Linked DNA regions of Homo sapiens. The protein of the gene in region 1 interacts with the protein of each later gene in a pairwise test. Each region holds a gene or a part of one and is shown in the gene's direction. Other genes may lie near its edges.

Region 1 (7,000 bases):
TCCCAAAGTGCTGGAATTACAGGTGGGAGCCACTGTGCCCAGCCAGGATCAAATATTTTTAAGAGTAGTTGTGAACTGATCCTTGTTTAAAAAATTGTTTACAAAATGGTTACATGGGTTGGTTGTACCTTTACTTTTATGTGTTTGAAATACTCCAGAAAGTGAATCACTTACTATTTCCCTTTGTGTTAATAGTGTCCTGTTAGCTGGCTGAGTAAGGCCTGAGTATTGACCTCCATGCCCCCACCCCCCTTTCCTCATATTTGGAAGTATAATGGGAAAAAGGAGCTGAGTGTTCACTGTAAAGCTGCATGAAAGGTTGGTCAATTCAAGCAGGTTGTAGTAAAGTTTTCCAGGGCCCACCTCTTCCCAGTCACTCTTCAAATATGATAGCTTATCTAAATTTAATGACTGGTTGTATTAAGGGTGAGGAATAATGGTCTTTTTTTTTTTTTTTTACTACTGTGAGCTATAATTTCTTTTTTTAAAAAAATGTATATTTATTATTTAAAAAATAATACAGACGACAGTCTGTGTTGCCCAGGCTGGCCTCAAGCTCCTGGGCTCAAGCCATCCTCCTGCCTCAGCCTCTCTGAGTGCTGGGATTACAGGCATGAGCCACCTCACCTGGCCACAGCTATAATTTCTTCTGTGCTGACTGTTGAGGGGAGAGGGTGCTGTAAAATGGCCAAAATGGTTCTGTCTTGTCTTGAACTGATTTTTTACTTGGAGTGGGGCAGGGGGAGACCAATAAATACAGCCTGGTAAATAACTGAAATAAGTGCAGGGACTTCAAGGGAAGAAATCATAATGAAGATACAGGAGAACTTGTTTTTCAAGGATAAATGGATCTTCACACTTAAATTGCAACTGTTAACAAATTAACATTGAGCTCAGTAATCAGACTGGCTCTAACAATTAGGTGATAAAATAGAATTTGACTTCCTTGTGAATTGGTACTTTAGAAAATCCTATTTGTTTAATTTGAAATTAATTGAAATTTTAATTTGAAACTGGGAAACAAGCTTATTTTATTTTTCAAGACAGAGTCTTGCTCTGTCCCCCAGGCTGGAGTGCAATGGTGTGATCTTGGCTCGTTGTAACCTCTGCCTACTGGGTTCAAGTGATTCTCCTGCCTCAGCCGCCTGAGTAGCTGGGATTACAGGCATGTACCACCACACCTGGCTATTTTTTGTATTTTTAGTAGAGCGAGGGTTTCACCACGTTGGCCAAGATAGTGTCGAACTCTTGACCTTGTGATCCGCCTGCCTCGGCCTCATAAAGTGTTGGGATTACAGGCGTGTACCACCGTGCCTGGCCAAAGCTCATTTTATATTAGTAAAAATAAGGGAGCTAGAAATTTGATGTTAAATTGCACAGACACTTAGGTGTGTTCTTTGCAGAATAGCCAACTGAGAGTACTTTTGGCTTTAATACGCATGTCAGAAAGTCAGGCTGTTTTAAGTTTAATATCTTTGCCCCCTCAGAACACTATGTGGCTGCCGTGTAAGAGTGGAACTGTCGAATGGTGAAAAAAGAAGTAGAAATCGTGGCCCACCTCCCTCTTGGGGTCGTCGCCCTCGAGATGATTATCGTAGGAGGAGTCCTCCACCTCGTCGCAGGTACTTGAGAGAAAGCTTGTTAAGAGGTATTGGTGTAATGGAGTAGCTAGTAGGAGCAGGTATTTCTCTTAAGTTTGTTGGTGGGTTTTAAACTTTGGAAGAATCGGAGGTTTCTGTGAAACATTTGTTGGGTGTAATTTGGGGTATGTGAGTTGTGCTGAGTGTTGGCTTTTGTCTTTAGGTCACTGTTCATGTTGGTAGTCAGTAACTTCTATCTTGGATCTGTCTTCTAGTTCATCTTTCTAGTTGCATCTTTCCAAATCTTCCCTTATACTTCAGTTTAGGCCTTTTTCCATTTCTTGGCTCCATAATGACAAACATTACATTCAACTCTAGCTCTTCACAAATTTGTGTTTTCTACTATTAGCACAATTGTAATATTTATCAAACAGGCAGCTGTTTTAATGTTACAACTGGTAAAGTAGAAATCATTCTGAGACTAACTTAAGTCACTGACCAATAAAGGGGGCTAAAAAAGAAGTAATCCCAGTCATCTGTTCTTCAATCCCAAATAGGAGAAAATTCAGTTTTTTTATAATTGAAAATGGCATCATTCTTGGACCAGGCAGTATTGTCTGGGTGCTAACTCCACATCTCCTCAGACCTCCAAAATAGTTTCTATAGGACTAAATTTACCTCTTACAGGTGAGTGGAGTCCTTCTAGGAGACAGGAGTTCAAAATCTTGCCCCTTTTGCTATTTTGAAAAACAACAGCACACTGTTGCCCATCATAATAAAGAGTATTTGTTAGCTAATAGATGGTTGTACTGATGGCTTGTTTTTCATTTTTTTTGTGCTTTTTGGTCCATCTATTAATAAAAATGAACCCCGTTACAGAGTCACCATCATGTCTCTTCTCACCACCCTCTGAATCTGCATTAGCCAGTCAACTAGCCCTTTCAGCGTCATGTGACCAGCGCGCCCCATTCAGCTTGGCTGGTGTCGTTTCACATGACCCAGGCTGGCCAGTCGTCAGGTTGCACCGCCCTTTGGTTCCCGAGCATGCTGTTTTCTCTCAGCCTTCTCTCCAACCTTAACCAAATCGGCAGCAGCCACCTCGACCGCCCACACATTCCTGGCCAATCAGCTCAGCTGTTTATTTACCAAATGTCTTCACAACAACTACAGCAGCAGCCTTCGGCTAACAAAAAAGCAGGAAAAATCCACAACACCCCCTTCGCCAACCAACTAAATCCAACGCAACATCTGGCAAAACCTTTTCAGCAAATTCTTCCTGGCCGTCAGTCCGGCAGCCTCACCTCACCATTTCTAGCTTGTTGAAACCCAAAACTAGTAAGTTTTTCCTGCTTATACAGTTTACTGCTGGTTAAAATAAGGAGTAAGCGGCTTAAAGTAATTCTTTTTTCTGGATCAAAGGCTGGCTGTGCATAATTGAATGGTAACGTACATATATATTGCTTGAAAAACTTTTAAGGGTGATAGGGAACTCGTAATGTAACTAGGCCTTCAAGTGAAACTTATTTGCATGTGCAAGATGCCAAACTAAAAATTTTAATATCTCTAACAGATTAGCTTTTCTGGCAAAAATTTGTTGAATCCTATCACCTTTAAATGGTTTTACTAACAGTTTCAAAATTTAAAATTTTGGGGTTGAAGTGTGGGCCAAGCTAAGGTAATTTTGGTAAGCCTAAACACACTCTTAAATGTGACGATCACAAATGCAGTTCTAATGTAGCACTTAATGGCATCAATATTTACACCTACCGCGTTTTCACAAAATTACACTATCCACCTGGTACCTAAGTCTTGTCATGGACTTACAGGTTTGCATGGGTTCCAAATACTGGTTTATGGTACTGTTTTTGGAACTACTTGTGGGACTATATTTTGGTGTGGTGTTTGGGTAGTGAAGTTAGTTTGACATGAAGTTTTGCATTGGACAGATCTGCTGTGAAGCATTCTTTGTTAAAGTGAATCCATGGTTGGAATACCTGCTTTTCACTTGAGCTTTTTGTTTCTTAATCCTTCTGTGCCTTTTTTTTCTTTTCTTTTTTTTCTTTTTTTTTTTTTTTTTTTTTTTTTGGACGATGGGTGCCAGTTCTTCGGCACATTCACTGGGCCCAACAGTGAGATTGAAAAGTTGGGAAATGCCTCACGCCATAAATACTAATTGATGATGAGCCTAATTTTCCTGTTTCTGCTTTTAGATCTCCAAGAAGGAGAAGCTTCTCTCGCAGCCGGAGCAGGTAAATGACTACCTTTTTTGGCTACGTTCTTAGAAATGGCAGTGTTTCTGCTATTCCTAAACTTTTCCAGGTGGCTTAGTTAATGGGAATAAACCTTGGCTTTAATAGTGAATCAAGTTGTAAGGATGAGTCAGCTTTCTTTGAGTTTTCAAAGGCTTTTTAGAAAGTATTTAATTTTTTAAAAAAGGATCTGTCACCCAGGCTGGAGTGCAGTGGTGTGATTATAGCTCACTGTAGCCTTTAACTCCTGGCCTTGGAGTGATCCTCCCTCTTCAGCCTCCTGAGTAGCTTGGACTACAGGCAAGTACTGCCATACCTGGCTAATTTATTTTTTGTGGAGATGGGATCTCACTTTGTTGTCCAATCTGTTCTCAAACTCTTGGCTTCAAGTGAGCCTCCTGCCTCTGCCTCCCAAAATATTGGAATTATTGGCATGAGTCACCATGCCAGATCAAGAAAATATTTATGTATAATTTTATCATACCTCATTGGTCCTAATGTTTTTTTGCTTGTTTAGGTCCCTTTCTAGAGATAGGAGAAGAGAGAGATCGCTGTCTCGGGAGAGAAATCACAAGCCGTCCCGATCCTTCTCTAGGTCTCGTAGGTAAGATCTTTGATAACTTGTATTTAAGACTTTGCATACATAGTATGCTAAGGCCTGTCTTCTAAGCCATAAATTTTTTACCTTAAAGTTCTATTTCGATATGTCACTAAAGTGTCACCAAGTTACAGATGTAATGTTTTGTTTTCTTTTTTTTTTTTTTTTTTTAGTCGATCTAGGTCAAATGAAAGGAAATAGAAGACAGTTTGCAAGAGAAGTGGTGTACAGGAAATTACTTCATTTGACAGGAGTATGTACAGAAAATTCAAGTTTTGTTTGAGACTTCATAAGCTTGGTGCATTTTTAAGATGTTTTAGCTGTTCAAATCTGTTTGTCTCTTGAAACAGTGACACAAAGGTGTAATTCTCTATGGTTTGAAATGGATCATACGAGGCATGTAATACCAAGAATTGTTACTTTACAATGTTCCCTTAAGCAAAATTGAATTTGCTTTGAACTTTTAGTTATGCACAGACTGATAATAAACCTCTAAACCTGCCCAGCGGAAGTGTGTTTTTTTTTAAATTTAAATACAGAAACAACTGGCAAAAATTGAACTAAGATTTACTTTTTTTTCCATAGCTGGGATATAGGCTGCAGCTATAGTTGAACAAGCAGTCTTTAAAAACTGCTGTGAAACACAGGCCATCAGGGAAAACGAAATGCTGCACTATTAAATTAGAGGTTTTTGAAAAATCCAACTCTCATCCTGGGCAGAGGTTGCCTAGTTGGTATAGAATGTTAAGTTTCAAGAAAGTTTACCTTTGCTTTAGGTCATAAGTTCCTTATTTGATTGCTGTATATGGATACATGGCTGTTCGTGACATTCTTTATGTGCAAATTTGTGATTTCAAAAATGTCCTGCCAGTTTAAGGGTACATTGTAGAGCCGAACTTTGAGTTACTGTGCAAGATTTTTTTTTCATGCTGTCATTTGTAATATGTTTTGTGAGAATCCTTGGGATTAAAGTTTTGGTTACAAATTGTTCTTTAACTTGAAAGCCTGTTTTTCCTTGCAAACTCAAATCTGTGAGCTTGGTACCAAGTCCAGGTATAACATTCCTATTGGAAGCCATACTTATATTTTCTTGTAAAGTGCTTTTGAATTAATAAAATATTAGCATAATTGTGTATAGTCAGTTGAACCCACTGTTACCATTGTTCTTATCCCATGGGAAGCAGTTGGTTACACGATTCTTATTTTATAAGAAACAGCTGAGAGGCACTATGGATTAGTCTTCTGAAGTGAAGGAAATATAGATGTCACCTAAGTGATAGTTAACCCATTTTTTTTTTTTTTAGGCATAGAAGCCAGTTCAGGGTCCATAATATTTAGTGACCAACATTTTAAAGTATAGCAGCAACCTGGTTCTTAAACACAAAGTAAGTTGCCCATTAACAAATGGCTTTTATCTTTAGCATGAAAACTTTCCACAGGTCTAAAAATTGCTTCCATTTTATAATTTGAGGTGTTGCATGGGAATTCTAAGCTGATCCATCATGATGTAAAAGTTCACAATATGGTTCAAATGTAACAGTGCAGAATTGAATATGGAGGCATGCATAACCTTCCTCTTAGAAAATGGCAGGTGTTGTAATTTCAAATTTTTGTGCAATTAGATTAAATCATAATGCAACAGTCTTGTGGCTTAGTTTCCTTAAATATGCTCTTAAGATAGTTTTGGATTATGCGGTATTGACTGTCTTAAATATGAAAGATAAGTCATTGCATTAAGAGTTCAAGCTAAATGGATACATTAAGATACAGTTCCTAAACAAATTATTTATTTCCACCTTTTACACAAATCTTGGGAGAATTGGTGTCAGGAAGGTTCAGCCTTAAAGTTAAGCATGTTCAAGAAAGACACTTTTCAGACAGCCTGTTTATTTACTGAGAGCTCTGGCATTGGGCATTTTGTCTTTAGTATTCTCACATAGCCTACAACCTGTTCCTGTTAGGAACAAGCCAAGATAGCTAAGAAGTTACGGAAGCCATGCAATATGTCAATTACATTGCTTTTTATAAATGGACAACTTATGTGGGCATTTTTGGGCAGTATATGACTTCCTTGCAGGCTCTTAAGTTGGAAGGGTTTCTGTAAAAAGGACAGTTACGGGTATAATATGGCTAAGAGAAATAATACAGAACCTGAAATAAAAGTAACTTCACCAGGGAGTTATCCTGACTTAGGTGACATACAGTCCCAGTTGGCAGTTACTTTAACCAGGAGCCCTAGCATAACCTCAAGACTCTTAGAAACTTTAGAACATGGAAATTGTTAAAAGCTTTGAATTGCACATTTAGATTGTGGCTATTAGGAATTTTTAAAGTTGTAATTCCTAAAATAACAGGTCACACTAACCGGTCTTGTCCATATTCAGGGTTGAGTGTAAAAATGAAAGGAATCACAAAACTGAACTTAGACCTGTGGTTTAAGGATCAAGGTGTTCACTAGAAGTCACTGTTACTAATACTTGATGACAATGTAAAGAAACATTAAGGATTATATTTGATTGTTTTCAAAGACACTGGCTGGATGTGGTGGCTCACACTTGTAATTCCTAGCACTT
Region 2 (8,010 bases), on another chromosome or scaffold:
TATGGTACATTAATTCTACATAATATTATGCAGCTAGTTGAAAGAATGAGCTATTTATAATTAACTGCTGAGTTAGAAAGAGTTGAAGAAAAATATATATGGCGTGATTATTTGTAAATATACAAATGAAAACTTCCAAGTGTTTTAAAACATTAGAATAAGTATTGAGAGAAACTTCAATCTTTAACATTGGTTTTGTCTAGGACTGGGATACGGAGAAGAAAACAGTCTTTTTCTTTATTTACTTCTGAGTATATTTTACATACTTCTGTGTTATTTAAATTGTTAAAATGAATGCTTATTACCTTTAAAAAGAGTAAATATAAACTGAAATGAAGAAGTAGTCTTAGAATTTGAACTATTTTTAGATATGAGGCAAAAAGAACTAATAGGATATATAGACACATGAGGGGGGCTTTATTAGGGGAATTGGCTCATGTGATTATGGAGGCTAACAAGTCCCACAACAGGCTATTTGCAAGCTGGAGATGCTGGTATGCTGGGAGTGTGGTTCAGTCCAAGTCTGAAGACCTGATGGCAGGGGTGCTGGTGTTAAGCACTAGAATCCAAAGGCCAGAGAGCTTGGTATTTTGATGTCCACGGCCAGGAGAAGAGTGTATCCCAGTTCCAGAAGACAGAGACTGTTTTTGTTCTACCCAGGCTCCCAGCTGATTGGATAGTGCCTGCCCACTTTGAGGGCGGATCCTCCCCTTGTAGTCCACTCAGACTCACATGCCAATCTCCTCTGTAAACACCCTCACTGACATACCCCAAAATAATGTTTTACCAGTTCTCTAGGTATTCCTAATCCAGTCAAGTTGACATCTAAAATTAATCATCACAGTTTCCTTTCTATTCTCTCCTTCTTTTATTCCATCTCCCTCCCCAGGCTTTGTTTTTATTATTTTATATTCTTTTTATATTTATATTCTTCCTTTGTTTTTTGTTTTCTATTTTCTTTCAAGGAATGCAACTTTGTCTTTGTACATATTTGAAACCACTATACTGTCTGTGAGACACTGTATTCATTTATATACAAGCTCAAAGCACCTCCCAAATAGATGTCCAATTAATTGTTGCTGAAATAAATTTAATTCCACATGGAAAATAATTGGATAGTATCATCCTGATTAAAATACTTCATAGTTGTGACATGAAATAACTATTCTTATTATTATTATTGGCGACAGGGTCTTAGTCTGTTGCCCAGCCTGGAGTGAGGTGGCATGATCATGGTTCACTGCAGCCTCAACCTCCTGGGCTCAAACGATTCTCCCACCTCAGCCTCCCAAGTAGATGGACTACAGGTGTGTGCCACCATGCCCAGCCACCACTGGTTTTTAAAAAAATTCCTGCAAACTATTTTTTCCTCACGTGGATATTGTATATTTGGTCATGTTTTCCTTACATGAATTTTAAAATTTACATCACCCCTTTTTGTTGAGACAGGGTCTCGCTCTGTCACCCAGGCTGGAGTGTGGTGGTGTGATCACAGCTCACTGCATCCCTGACCTCCCAGGCTCAAGCAATCCTTCCAGTGCACGCCACCACAGCTGGTCATTTTTTTAATTTTATTTTTAGTAGAAACTAGGTCTCACTATGTTGCTCAGACAGTATGTCCTTTGAATTCACACATTTTTATTGCCATAAAAATGCCAGAGATCATTAAAATAAAAATGTCCTCTTATAGAAACTAAAGACCAAAAAGTTAGGTGATTTATTCAAAACTGAAAAGGTGTTAAGTGACAGTATTAGAACCATGTTTTTCTTTTTTTTCTTTTTCTTTTTTTTTTTTTTTGAGATGGAGTCTTACTCTGTCACCCAGGCTGGAGTGCAGTAGCGCCATCTCGGCTCACTGCAACCTCCGCCTCCCAGGTTCAAGTGATTCTCCTGCCTCAGCCTCCTGAGTAGCTAGTAGCTGGGATTACAGGCACATGCCACCATGCGGGCTAATTTTTGTATTTTCAGTAGAGATGGGGTTTCACCATGTTGGCCAGTCTGGTCTCGAACTCCTGACCTTAAGTGATCCAACCACCTCAGCCTCCCAAAGTGCTGGAATTACAAGCATGAGCCACCATGCCTGGCCAGAACCATGTTTTTCAATCCAGTATATTTACAGCATGATTTCCTCCCTTAATTTGAACTTGATATTGTATTCTATTTATAAGTTAAATTAAAATAGCAGTTATTTCTGAAAAAGCTCCATCAAAATCAATACGTTGATTACCCATTTTTAAACGTGCCACTGTGGGTTTCTGTTGCTATGTGACAGGACTGATATTTTAAGTGCCTGGTAAAGTGCAACACACCAAGTGGACATTCAGTTTAAGGCTGTTTTATGATGCATATCATTTGTGCTTTTTACAGTTAAAATCAAATCTAAAATGTTGACAATGATGGTTCATATATCAACTTTACTCCTCCATTTTATAGCCCATCTTTTATTGATTTAGAACTCTGTACCTCTTTATTATATTGTAAATTTAAAAAATATGAAAACATCAGAGAGAATAATAAATCTTTACATCCAAACATAATAAGGAGGATGCTGCATATACAGAAATACACATGAACTTTTCTCTGGAAAGAATGGCCTATTACAAACCACCACTCTCTTCTATTTGCACATGAAGGTAGAAACCACAGTGGCATTAAGAGCATTTTTCCTTAAGACATGCTCACATGATATCTAGGAGGCCAACAGTAAGAACGTGAAAACTTAATTCTCTGCTAGGAAACAAATACATCAAAAGATCTGGTATTTTTAGTTTTGATGAAACTATACTGTTATTATCAATTTAAAATAGTTTTCTATTTGGCAGATTTTATCATTTGGGCTTAAATTTTGAGAAAAAACACTTTCCTAAAACAAAACTGAGATTTTTAAAAATATATTTAGATTTTAAATATATATAGATTTTTTAAAATATAAAACATACACAGAAGCATGTTGCACCAGGAGTCCATATCAGGAGTTACACTCTCTAGAGTGAATCCTAGAGATTGTATACATAAAAAAGCTACACCCTTATTCTGTTGGATGGCTCATAAATGTTGATCTGGTTATAGCTTTCCACACTAATTTTCACTATTTCTCTTAACAATCATCCTTTATAATCATTCTTTATATCCAAATAGTATATATCCTTTACTATTTGCTCTGATTTTGACAGGGAAAGGTCCTTCATAAGAATTTTGTTGTTCCATCAGAAGAAAGCATTTTAACGCCTCTAGCTCATTTTCCCCTCAAATATCCCAAATACAGTAAAGCCACCTAAATTCCCAAACCCCATATCAAAAACAGTACACTGAAAAACTCCAAAGACTTTGACAGCGACAAGACCGCCATTCATGTGTTCCTTCAGCAAGTGCCAGACGCTGTTATGAAAGTGATAAGACACTGTCCCAATCCTCACAGTGTGAGACAGTGAGCAGACTCAACAGAATGCATAGGATGAAAGTGCCAGAAAAGCGACGTCCTCAGGGCGGGAGCAGGGGACGCCGCAACGTAGTCTGCGAGAATGCAGGAAGGCGGCAGTGAAGCGGTCGGTCGGCGGGGCCGCGGCAAAGTGGGGAGGAAACTCATCCCGGGCAGGCGTCAGGGTGGCTGGAGAGCGCAGCACGCGCGAACAGAACGGGGGCAGGCGACAGGAAAACGTGTGAGCGCGCGGCTGAAAGCGACTGGGACCTGGGTGAGCCGCGCGCGGGGAGCAGAGCTTAGTCCTGCGGGAGCCGCAAGCAGGACAAGGGCGTGGGTGGGAGGACTGGAAGGTCAGCTGGTAGATGGGGGACACTGAGGGCAGGCAGAGCAACCGGAAGCTTGCTGCAGTCGACGAGAAGAGAAACTAGGAGGTTAAATAATCAGTGACTTTGAAAAAGTCAAAATACCTCCGAGGTAAAACAAAACATTTAACAACCCGCCGGGGGAAAAAGTGGAGGATGGCACACACGTCACTATCTAACCACAACGCGGAGGCCTTTTAAGTAAATAATGATAAAGTTTTTGTTGTTGTTTGAGACAGGGTCTCGCTCTGTCGCCCAGGCTGGAGTGCAGTGGAACGATCTCGGCTCACTGCAACCTCCGCCTCCCGGGTTCAAGCGATTCTCCCACCTCATCTTCCCGAGGAGCTGGGACCGCAGGTGCGCGCCACCACGGCCGGTTAATTTTATTTTTTGTAGAAACGAGATCTTAATACGTCGCTCAAGCTGGTCTCGAACTGCTGAGCTCAAGCGATCCGCCAGCCTCGGCCTCCCAAAGCGCTGGGATTACCGGCGTGAGCCACCGCGCACCTGGCCCAAATTTAATTTTGTGATGTGGGGTTAAGACATGGGAAAGCCCCTAGGCTCGGGGAGTCAGGCGGGAAAGCTCTCCCCCTGGCATCTAAAAAAATGCCCACCAGAAAGGAGGAAAGGTGGGCTTCCAAATTGCCGACTCTTCACTCCACAGGCTGCATTTCAGGTGGGCAGCGCAGCCAGGTGAACACTCAATCCACCGCAAACATGCGGACACTCTTTTCAATATCAGATTACCATAAAGATAAGGAGCACACCCTGCGCAAAATCCTTCCTGTCCAGTTCCCTTAAAGCCTCTTTCATTGTCCTCCGCGACGCAGCCTGTAAAACTGCCAAAGGAGGGCAGAGGCCAAAGTCCACGCGCTGCGCATGCGCACCATCCGCAGTGTGGGCGAAGGGCGGTGCTGGAAGGACGTTTCCCAGAAGGCCCCTCCAGCGCAGCTGCCCTTCCTCCCGCTCACAGGCCGCGTGACGTGACTCCACCCACCACGCTTCTCGGTCTCAAACAGCAGTTTGCCAGCGCCCCCCTGCGGCCCAACTGGGTACTACGAACATGCACTCAGGGCCAGAGCGAGCGAGTAAGCAGAATGTGGCGAGTCCGGCTGCCGCCGTCGTCACCTTAGCGCGCCGACAGCGAGGGAAGGGAGGAGGAGGGAGACGCGCAGGGAGGGGAGGGGAGGGAGGAGGCTAGACAAGGCGGGGGAAGGGGGAGTAGCGGTGGCTTAAGCCGCGCGGAGCAGCGCAACCTGGGTCGCTCCCTGCTTCGCCGCCGCCTCCGGACCGAGCCAGCGGAGTCAGTGTCCTAGAGACCCTGTAACACCACAAAGCGGACGAAGGAGTCCATGTTGGGGAACTTGGCAGCGGAGTGACTGGGACCTGGGAACCTACTGTGGGGCCGCGGCCGGACCGAGCGCCTCGACCTCGGTCTGAGGTAAACACTGGTCGACCCGCGGGGTGGATGGGCTTGGGCAGCTGTCTGGGAGAGACGAGGGTTAGCGGCCGGCGCAGAGCGCTGGAGCGGGCCTAGGGCGACGCGAGGGCTGACAAAGTTTCGGAATCTCGCGCGGCCCGTGCGACGTCGTGCGCTGGGAGGAAAGTTGGAGCTACCTCTCGAAGTGGGGGAGGCTGCGGCCGGGAGGGCCCCTTTCCCTCTCGCTGCCCCGCGAGGGAGGCTCGGCCCGGCCCTGGGCCGCCGCCGCCTCTCTGTCGCACTCTGTCCCATTTCCTCCTTGTGGCCTACGCGTCTCCCGCCGCCTTAGCTGGCGAAGCCTGTCCCCGTCCGGGTGCAGGGTCCTACGGGGGGGGGGGAAGGGGCTCCACGCCAGAACCGCCACAGACACCCTCCTCCCTGCAGTGGAAACGTGTCCTGCTGAGCTTCCGGGCGCTCCCGACCGCGGTGTCGGCTTTTCTTGGGAGACTTTGGTCGCGAGCGTCCAAGCCCGCTAGTGAAACCAAACTTTACTACGCCGTGACCTCTCGAGTGCGCGAATGGGGAAGAGCCGGCGCTTCTAAGCATCAGCCTTTTTCACTCCTTGATCTGAACTTCAAACTACTCATCCACCCCCAGTGTTTTAAATTCGCTACCTGGGCTGACAACTACGGGGCCGGGAGATATAAATTTAGCCTAATCAGTCGCCCCTTCTGAGACCTAGGAATTTTGAACCATTAAAAAGATTTCCTACAGATGGCTGGCGGTCTTGCCACCAACACGTATTTTGAAGTATTGTTTCAAAAGTAGACGCCTGATTTAGAGTACTTGATTTAGACATTCACGGATTCAAATGTTGAATTTTGAAATACTTCCAATATATTTCCGTATTGTATTACATACAGTGTCTACCAGCTGACTGTTGTTCATTCATTTTGGATTACATTTTGGCTAACATGCTACCACTGACCTAAGATACTTAAGCAAAACTGCTGAAAAATGTTTTTAATGCTTTGTGTAGTAGATGCTGATGTTAAATTTTTTTCTCCGATTTGGGAATTTTCCCCGAATTTTGGGAAAAGCATATTAATAAATGCATTATTTTTTCGTTTTAAAAGAAAAATTAATTTCTACATATCACCACCTACCTCAGCAGCAGAATATCAGGGCAGTACATTTTAAAATAACGGTTGGTTTTTGTATTTTATTAGTAATTGTATTAAAATTTTGACATGTAATCAAGTCTGTTTCTAAACAATTGCTTTCTCTTTCCTGTTTCTTTGGCAGTTGGCTTGATCATGTCACTATTTTGGTTAAAAGATGCAAGAAAAAGTTCATGGGCCTTTTGTTTTTGTTGTTTTAACTAAGCAAGAGAAATGAAATCTTGAAACTGTCTTTGGATTTCTTTTGTTTTATATTATCCTATCGGATAATCTGAATTTATATTTTTTATGCAATGTGAGTTTTTTAAAAACAGTTCTTAGGGTAGCTGCATTTTAGCTATAATATTTTTTGGTGCTTGCAGATATTTTAACAGTCATTCAGTTTTTCACATTCAGATAGTGAACTTTTTGCCTGAGAGTTTGAGTACATTTTAAGATTTCACTGGGGTAAAATTTGAATGTTTGCTTACTGTAAGTATACTCATGCTTTAAAGACATTCTTCAGTATAAAGGGGAAGAAAACTGTAGAAGAAAATTTAAAGTTTCTAAATATGTTGCCAGAAAACATGTCATGGAGAAAATTTTACGGATAATTTTTTAATTTTTTCTGTTAATACCTTCATGTGGTAATAGGGCTAGTGTGTTAAGATCGAAACTTTTCAGGAGTTACTTAGCTCTCTATCGTCCTTTGGCACCAACTAGAGCTTAGACAGTTTTCTGGAAAACCTGTGCTTTTATTCAGCAGAGATAGGATGAATCAGTGCAGTTACATGATACTGTTGATTCATCATCAGTAACATCTTTTAGTAATCAGAAAATACAGTACTATACTACCCATCAACTTAATACTGAACTTTTAAAGTATATCAGAGATAGTTGTAGCACCTTAATTAAAGAGAGTAGCAGGCATAAAAGTAATAAAAAGAAAGTCAACTGTAGAATAATTTTCATTGTAACTTCCCTTTAGCAAGCCCTGCTATCACCTGCTTTTGTCTTTTAAGATGTAAATTGTACCTTGACTTACCTTGCCCAGTGAAATAAACTTAAAATCCAGATTTTTAATTATACTCTGTCCCCCAAAATAAGTTAATAACCTTGCACCTTGTCTTGCTTCTGAGCAGTAATAACTGTTAGTAGTGCTGAGTAGAGCCCAGAGTTAAAATATCCAGTATCATTCTCTTGCTATTCCCAAAACTCATCTTTGCATTGTATTTTTTTAAGTTGTGTCTATGAACTTAATGTATGAAATCCTAGTACATAGACACATAAAAATTCAATACATAACGTAAAAACACAACCACTATTTTGCTTTCAAAAATATCTTCCTAAAAAGTCACTGTGACCTTTGCTGATCTACAGTCTTTAACACTCCATAGCCAGAGTGATCCTGATAAAATGTCAGGTCATGTAACTTCTTTTCTCAAATGGCTTCCCTTCTCAGTCATAGTAAATTCCATACTCCTATGGTCTACAAGGCTCTATGATTTAAGTCTCTTCTTCCTCTCTGACTTCATCTCCTCACCCTTTCTCCAATCTCCTTTCCCCTACGCTGTTGTGGTCTTCTCTAACTACTGTGTATAAAACAACAGCCTTCCCCCGATATTTTGTATCTGTTTTTATGCTAGA
Region 3 (7,045 bases), on another chromosome or scaffold:
ACAATGAGAGATACCTTTCCAGTGACCTGAAGAAGTGTCTAGAGTACCAAGTGTCCATTAGGAATGATGAGAGGCAATACTGAGATTAGTCTGTGAAAAAATTAAGTAACTAAAATACTAGGAATATATGATATGTACATACATCTTCATATATGTTTAGTTTACAAATATATGTGGTATATAACAGGGGACTGATTTAGTTAGATTTCAAGTTTGAAGGAAACCTAAAGGATAAGCTGAAGGGAAAGATAGAGAAAATAGAGGCCTAAACTAAGCCCGGTAGTGGGAGTTAAAAAGAAAGGATGAATACAAAATTTCTGCATTAAAATGAGTGGTACCGTTTGTCCCTCAGTATCTGCAGAGAATTAGTTCCAGGACCCCCATTTACCAAAACCTGGGGATGCTCAAGTCCCTTATAGTTGAGCCTCTGTACCTGCAAATCCCTGCAGGTACAGAGGACCAACAGTATTTGGACAGCAGTGAATAAAGAATCTGGGCAAGGGCTGGGCATGGTGGCTCACACCTGTAATCCCAGCACTTTGGGAGGCTGAAGCAGGCAGATCACCTGAGGTCAGGAGTTTGACACCAGCCTTGCCAACATGGTGAAACCCAGTCTCTACTAAAAGTACACAAAATTAGCTGGGTGTGGTGGCGCGTGCCTGTAGTCCCAGCTACTTGGAAGGCTGAGGCATGAGAATCACTTGAACCCAGAAAGCGGAGATTGCAGTGAAATGAGATAGCACCACTGCACTCCAGCCTGGGTGACAAAGTGAGACTCTGTCTCAAAAAAAAAAAAAAAAAAAAAGAATCTGGGCAAGGAAATGAGTGATACAGCATCAATGCAATAATTTTTAAATATTTTTGAGGTTGGCTACTTAACCTTCTTTCTTACTCTGCGTGCACACTTAATTTTTCAGTAGAGGATGGAATCTTTGTATCTTCTTCAATGCCTATTAGATTTTATACATACTTGCCTCTTAGTATCATCTCTAACAATTTTCTGTTTGAAATTTAGCTTTTAGTGATTCAAGAATTTATCATTCAAAATCCCCAAATACAGTGACCATAAAGAAGGTGGATGAGCCGCTGGTAGATATCAGAATAATCTGGGAAACTTCCCAAATACTACCTAGAACCTAGAAATTCTGCATATCAGCAGAGGGGAAGAATAGGAGTGTCAGGCACGTGTAGTTACAAAAGAACTTTCCAGGTGACTGAGTCCTATCCCTTGCCCAACACTGGGAACTAAACTCCTCTAATTTCTTATTAGGAAAACAGAAAATGTACAGCAAATCTTCACTAGAAGATGACTTAGGATTTCATGGTTTCTATTCAGAGGACTTTGTAAATTTAAGAATCATATTGGAAAGACTTCCTCTGGTTTTGCAAGGACATGGGAAATACTGTCACAGGTTGAGATTCTAGGGTATTTTAATAATGTCCCGATTGTTTTTGTGGTTTCTCATATGCAAATCCTCCAGGCAACAAGGACATAATTATGGAATTAAAATCTTAACCCTGGCATCCAAAAAGCTAACAAAGGAGCAAGTTATCCTGTTTATGTTATATATTTCACAATTCTGGATATGTGGTTCCCAGCCTATCCCCACCTAAGGATACCCATTTAGTACTTTACCTAGTAAAGCATATCACAATTAAGGACCCACAAAATGCTGTCTTAGATTCCGGAAAAGTAATATTCTTTCCAAAGAATATGAAATTTTAAAAATGAGAAATTAAATAGTAACAAAAACCTCCTGGTTAATGTTAATTATGTGGAATTTTTCGTTAGTCATGTGTTGAGATTATCAACTGTTTGGCTATTGTTTTAGTACCACTAAGTAGAGATAAAGCTAGTTTATTCAAATAAAGTGACACTGCAAATTTAACTATGTTGATAACAAATCATCAAAAAGGTATCTTTGGATTACCTACACGCTTTTTAAAAAATGAACTGGCAAGATTGTTGCAATTTTCCACCTACTGTGTACTTCTGCAAAGCAATAAAGTATGATTTTACTCGAAATCTAAATCTCCAATGTTCAATATTTTATTACAAATTGGGCAAGATCTTTTTTCGAATAGCATGTTTGATGGCACAATACGACAGAATAGCATATTCAATGGCACAATTAGTAGTAAAAAAACAAAAAACCTGCCTGACGTGCTTCCGGAAAACGTAAAATAGACTGTATATACAGTAATTCTTTTCATAAGACAATGACAAAATGTCAGAGTTGTAATTGAGGACTTTATTAACTGAACTATACTTCTGATTACAACATTCTGTGTATGTTAATAGTTTCTCTGGAGAAATTACGGGCACAGGAAGTTCCTCTCATTAAGGATATTAACATAAAGCTTAATATGAAAAATTAGCACTCAGTTCAGAAATGACGACTTCAGAAATGACTTCAGAAATGACGATTTGTATGATCTTTTCATTCCTCACAACCCAGTATTAAAACTATCTAATATTGCAAAGGATGGTAGTGTTCCACTTCGTTTTGCTATTCAATTATTGCTGATAGATACATGTTTTCAAAAAGGCCATTGGCATCTGTTTGCTTTCTCCTACTTCTCCAAGTGAATACACCCTTCAATATGTAGTAAATACATATGTGGAGTTATGTTTTGAGATTTTTTTGAAGGATTTGAACCAAACTGTTTAAACAGCTGGTAGCCTAAAACTGGAATATTTCCCACAAGGGAAAAATAATTATTTGGGGAATGTATGTTACCACAAACTCATCTGACTTGGAAAGTGCGCCTTTACACCAAATCAAATAACTGAACAATGGGATTAGAAACTTTTAATTATTATTAACCTCGGCCACCGGGCGCCGTGGCTCACGCCTGTAATTCCAGCACTTTGGAAGGCAGTGGCAGGTGGATCGCTCGAGCTCAGGAGTTCAACACCAACCTAGCAACATGACAAAACCCCGCCTCTACAAACATAAATAAAAAACAAAAATCATTAACCTTGAGTGAGTCAAGTTCATCTGCAGACTGAAAAAAATAAAGTGTAACAGAATTTTGATTTAAAAAACGCTTTCAAAAAAGCATTTCAAAATGCTCTAAGTATGTTTCAAAAATACACTTAAAAATATGTTTCCAACACACTGAAGGGATTTAACTAAGATCCACAATTACAGTTACGATACAAACTGTAAGCTAAAAGGCAGCAACTTAAGCTGAGACAGTTACTAACATCCCTCGAGCAGCGTTTTTTGTTGCGATTCGGCGCCGCACCCGTCACCCCGCCCTCCGGGGAGGAACCTAGAAAGGAAGGGTGGTACATTTCTAAACCAGGCCACCCACACATGAATCAAGCGGCATCACAGGCTGTCAACAACCGGGTCTCTATTTTCTCTCCTCCTCCGGCGCCCCGCCCGTGCGGGACATCAGCTCCCAGGATGCGTCAATCGCAGATCGCCCAAGCGTAAGAGGTGGCGAGAGGCCACCACGGTTGCCCAACAGTTGCGTTCCCAGGCTGCCTGGTGTGACGCAGCAGCCCCCGCCCGGACCCTGAGGCCTGGCGCTCCGACTGAGCCGAGGCCTGTGCTACCCGACACTCCTTGCGACCCGGCCCCTTAGGCTTATTCAGCGCGGCCCTTCCCGGCTTCCCGAGTCCCATCGCAGTCTCTCCCCACCCCCGTTCCTCCCCGGTTCCTTGTCAGTGTCCGCCGCGATGTCCTTGCGCAACCATCCCAAGTGACATTAGCGCCCATACCCGCACGGAGCGAGCCTGAAGCTCCCACTTCCCGGAATTCAACGCCGGGCCGCTAAGGGCGGGCACCCAAGCGAGGATCAGCGGACTAAGGCCGCGACCAGAGTCCAGCGGTCTCCGCGCAGTCAGAGTCCGACAGCCTCTGCGCATCCGCCGTGCGCACTCCCATTCGTGCGCGTGCGCGCACTCGCCCCCCCCGCCCCGCCCCAGCACCAATCGCTTTTTTCCTACGCCCACGACCCTTCAACGTAGTCCCTCCCGCCTCCCGCGCGCGAGCAGAAAGGCTTCGGCGTGCGCGCGCCCGCCCGCCTCGCGCTCTGTCGGGAAGGGGAGTGAGCAGAGGCGCTTACGTCGCGCGGGAGGCGGAGGCGACGGCGACCTCGGTGGCGGCGGCGGCTACGACGGAGACGGTTGCGCTCGCTTGCTTTCTCGGCGTCATGGCGGCTGCCGGGGGCAGATAAGCGGAGGGAGCGGGAGCGCGCGCGCGACGGCGGCGGCGGCGGCGGCGACGACTGGTTACTTATAGCTCTTGCTGCCCTCGCCCTTGGTGCTTCAATAATGAATTGTTAGCTCCACTCCGCAGGGGATCGCGCGTTGGTGCTGCGGACCGGGGCTTCCCCTTCCCCTCCGCGTCTGTCCCCTTCCCCCTCCCCCGCACGGACTCTTGCTTACCCCGAGACGCCGGAGCCCTAGGACTGGGCGGCGGAGATCCCGGGCCTGGGCGCGGGGGAGGCCGTCCACCCGAGTCGGCTCCCTCCGCCCCGCCAAGCCCGCCGGTAAGAAAGGGGGCGGCGGGCGGGTCAGGATGTGGCGGAGAGGACAGGAACCGGCCGGGCGGAGGGCGGGCGCGGCGCGGTGCCCAGGCGGCGGCCCAGCGGCCGGGTGAAGGCCGGGTGGCTCTGTGAGTGCCGGTGGCGGTGTACGGGCCTGGCGCGCAGGGGGCGTGTGAGCGGCGAGTACAGGCCGGGGCCGCAGAACGCATCCTTGCGCCGGCCCGGCGGCCCTGCCCCGGCCTCTTCGGCTTGGTGCCGACCGGGCCGCGAGAGGAGACCCGCGAATGGCTAGCACTTAGCCGGTGCGTGGGTCCTGCCGCGACCCGGGCTCCCAGCACGTGGGGAGCGGCGGGAGGGGGAGGGGGCGGCGGCTCGGGCGAGCCTGGGAGGGCGCGGGGCGGGTCTGCGGGAAGTTTGAGGCGGGAAGAGGGACTCCTGGACCGGGATGGAGGCCCTGGGAGAGGGGGGCAGGTCCGCGAGGGAGGCTGATTGGAGCGCGCTGGATGGATGAGTGAGGATGGTTTCCAAACCTCTTTCGAGTGCCGCTTTAAAAACTTAGCAGGAGCAAAGCAACTGCTAAAAGACAGAGGATTGAAGAGGTTTAATAACTTAGGGTAGTCATTGTGGAGACGCTTGAGAGGACACAGCGCTGTGTGCGCTTGGAGCTTCAGAACTCAGGGTTGTGAAAAGGGTCTCAGAGGACTTATTCGGATAAGGGAGATGGAGGGGAAAGGAAGTTAAAATGTACAGAGAAAGCCATTTTGAGGGACGAAAGGAAGGTGAAAAGGAAAGAACGAAAAGGGGAGTGAACTTTTTAAAGGAAGAAACGGGAAAGGCAGTTTGTTAACATACTTAGATTTTTTAAGACTTAATTGTTCAGTAAGGCACTTTGACTAGGGTTGAGATTAATATTTAACATTAGGAATAAATGTTGAGTAGAACGGTTACTTTTTAGATAACCTGTTCTTGCAGAGTCTACTGGACAGTAGTCTAGAGAATTAACATCCTGATCCAGATGCAGACTTTGCTATCATTGAGTTGGTAACAATCTGTTTCCCTCCCTCTCTTGTGGAATGGAAATAATCGTAGGAGTGAATTCTCTTTGCTGAGGTCGGAGGACAGCTCTGCTCTCAGTTGGCTGTCTCGGTACTTTCTGGCTGGGGAAGGATCTGACGTCTCCTTCCCCCGCTTCTTCCTCTCCCTCCCCTGCCAGAGATCTCCTTTGTTTATTCGTGGATGGCTTGTAGGTGATTCTTCAGTGTTGTACTGAAATCTTTAAAGGTGGAAATGGTGTGTCTTGGTTCATTATTCTTGCCCCAAATTTTTTACGTAAAAAATCAGATATAGTGTATATTCTATTACCTTTTCAATTTTTTTCACAAAATAAAAACCAAGTGCAAACTGGTTAAGTATTATTTAAATGTTATCATCCCACTATCCGTTTACCTGTTAAATAACACATTTATTTTGAGCTATGCATTTTTGTTGAGAGTATATGGTATCTTTTATTTGCCTGTTCCTCCCATGGGAGCGTTTTCAGAACTTTCTCACTCAAGTGTATGAAGTTCTTGGTGATAGGAGTGAGGGCTTGATTAAAGGTAACCTCCTCCCACCCCCCCCCCCACTTCATTTATTCGACCAAGTTATCTAATAAGACTCCGTTATCTACTCTTGGGATGTATGCATATGTTACATCGTATCACCTTGCTTTAGGAGTCTATAAAAACATTGTTAGTTGCAGTTAGTCTCTAAAAATCCTTTCACTCCACAAATATTTTAATTTTTTCTGTCCGAAGTATATTAGCAGTAGCATACTAAATTCTAGTTAGCAGTCAGGAGTGTAGTTATTACAAGTCTAGATATTTTAAGTATTTAATAAAAGGCCCCCACTTCTTCCTTAACAGCTGTAGTCTAATTGGCCTACGTAGATTTATACGTTTTAGACAGGGCTTAATTTACCTTTTTTCTGCAGGAAATTTTGTTAATTTATTAATATATTTTCTTTAGGTGAATCAAAGGAGAGTCCCAGAAAACCTGTGACTGTTGAAGAAAATTCATCTGTGAATTTTTATATTCAAGGAGTCAGTATTTATATTCATCTTTTAAACTGGGAAGATTTATATTTTACTTTAAAACTTCTTGATAATAATTTACAATGAATGGACACAGTGATGAAGAAAGTGTTAGAAACAGTAGTGGAGAATCAAGGTAAGTAAGCACTTTGTTATCAATTGTTTACTATGAAGAGAGTTGAAAACTTGACTTTTTTCTTTATTGTTATTGTTGTTATTTAGTTTTCCTCATAGGTAGCAGAGTTTTCAGGTTTTCCTCTTAGCTATCCAAATACTAAAAAAATTCTGATATACGAACCTTTTTTCATAATACAGGTTTTAATTATATTTTTCATTCAGATACACAGTAGATCTTAAATATAGAAAGTTTTTGTTTACTTAAATCTATTTGGAAGTTTATATTTGAGCTAATAATTAAGCTGGAGCATGTATAATAGATTTAAATTGTTTTGACTGTTAGTGAAATTTCT

Evidence for each region. The genes of interacting proteins can lie anywhere in the genome.
Region 2: the proteins of SRSF3 (region 1) and SCAF11 interact in a two-hybrid assay, tested with the Homo sapiens proteins (one study listed by BioGRID).
Region 3: the proteins of SRSF3 (region 1) and CHD1 interact in a two-hybrid assay, tested with the Homo sapiens proteins (one study listed by BioGRID).

What each region holds. Positions count from the first base shown.
Region 1 is NC_000006.12:36,597,362-36,604,361, forward strand, and holds part of SRSF3 (serine/arginine-rich splicing factor 3), read left to right. Parts: intron 1-1,487; coding exon 1,488-1,622; intron 1,623-2,459; exon of another isoform or gene 2,460-2,915; intron 2,916-3,790; coding exon 3,791-3,829; intron 3,830-4,346; coding exon 4,347-4,433; intron 4,434-4,600; coding exon 4,601-4,628; 3' UTR 4,629-7,000. UniProt on the Homo sapiens protein: Splicing factor, which binds the consensus motif 5'-C[ACU][AU]C[ACU][AC]C-3' within pre-mRNA and promotes specific exons inclusion during alternative splicing.
Region 2 is NC_000012.12:45,987,567-45,995,576, reverse strand, and holds the start of SCAF11 (protein SCAF11), read left to right. Parts: upstream 1-5,002; 5' UTR 5,003-5,224; intron 5,225-8,010. UniProt on the Homo sapiens protein: Plays a role in pre-mRNA alternative splicing by regulating spliceosome assembly.
Region 3 is NC_000005.10:98,926,000-98,933,044, reverse strand, and holds the start of CHD1 (chromodomain-helicase-DNA-binding protein 1), read left to right. Parts: upstream 1-4,037; 5' UTR 4,038-4,506; intron 4,507-4,513; exon of another isoform or gene 4,514-4,805; intron 4,806-6,510; 5' UTR 6,511-6,658; coding exon 6,659-6,711; intron 6,712-7,045. UniProt on the Homo sapiens protein: ATP-dependent chromatin-remodeling factor which functions as substrate recognition component of the transcription regulatory histone acetylation (HAT) complex SAGA. Regulates polymerase II transcription.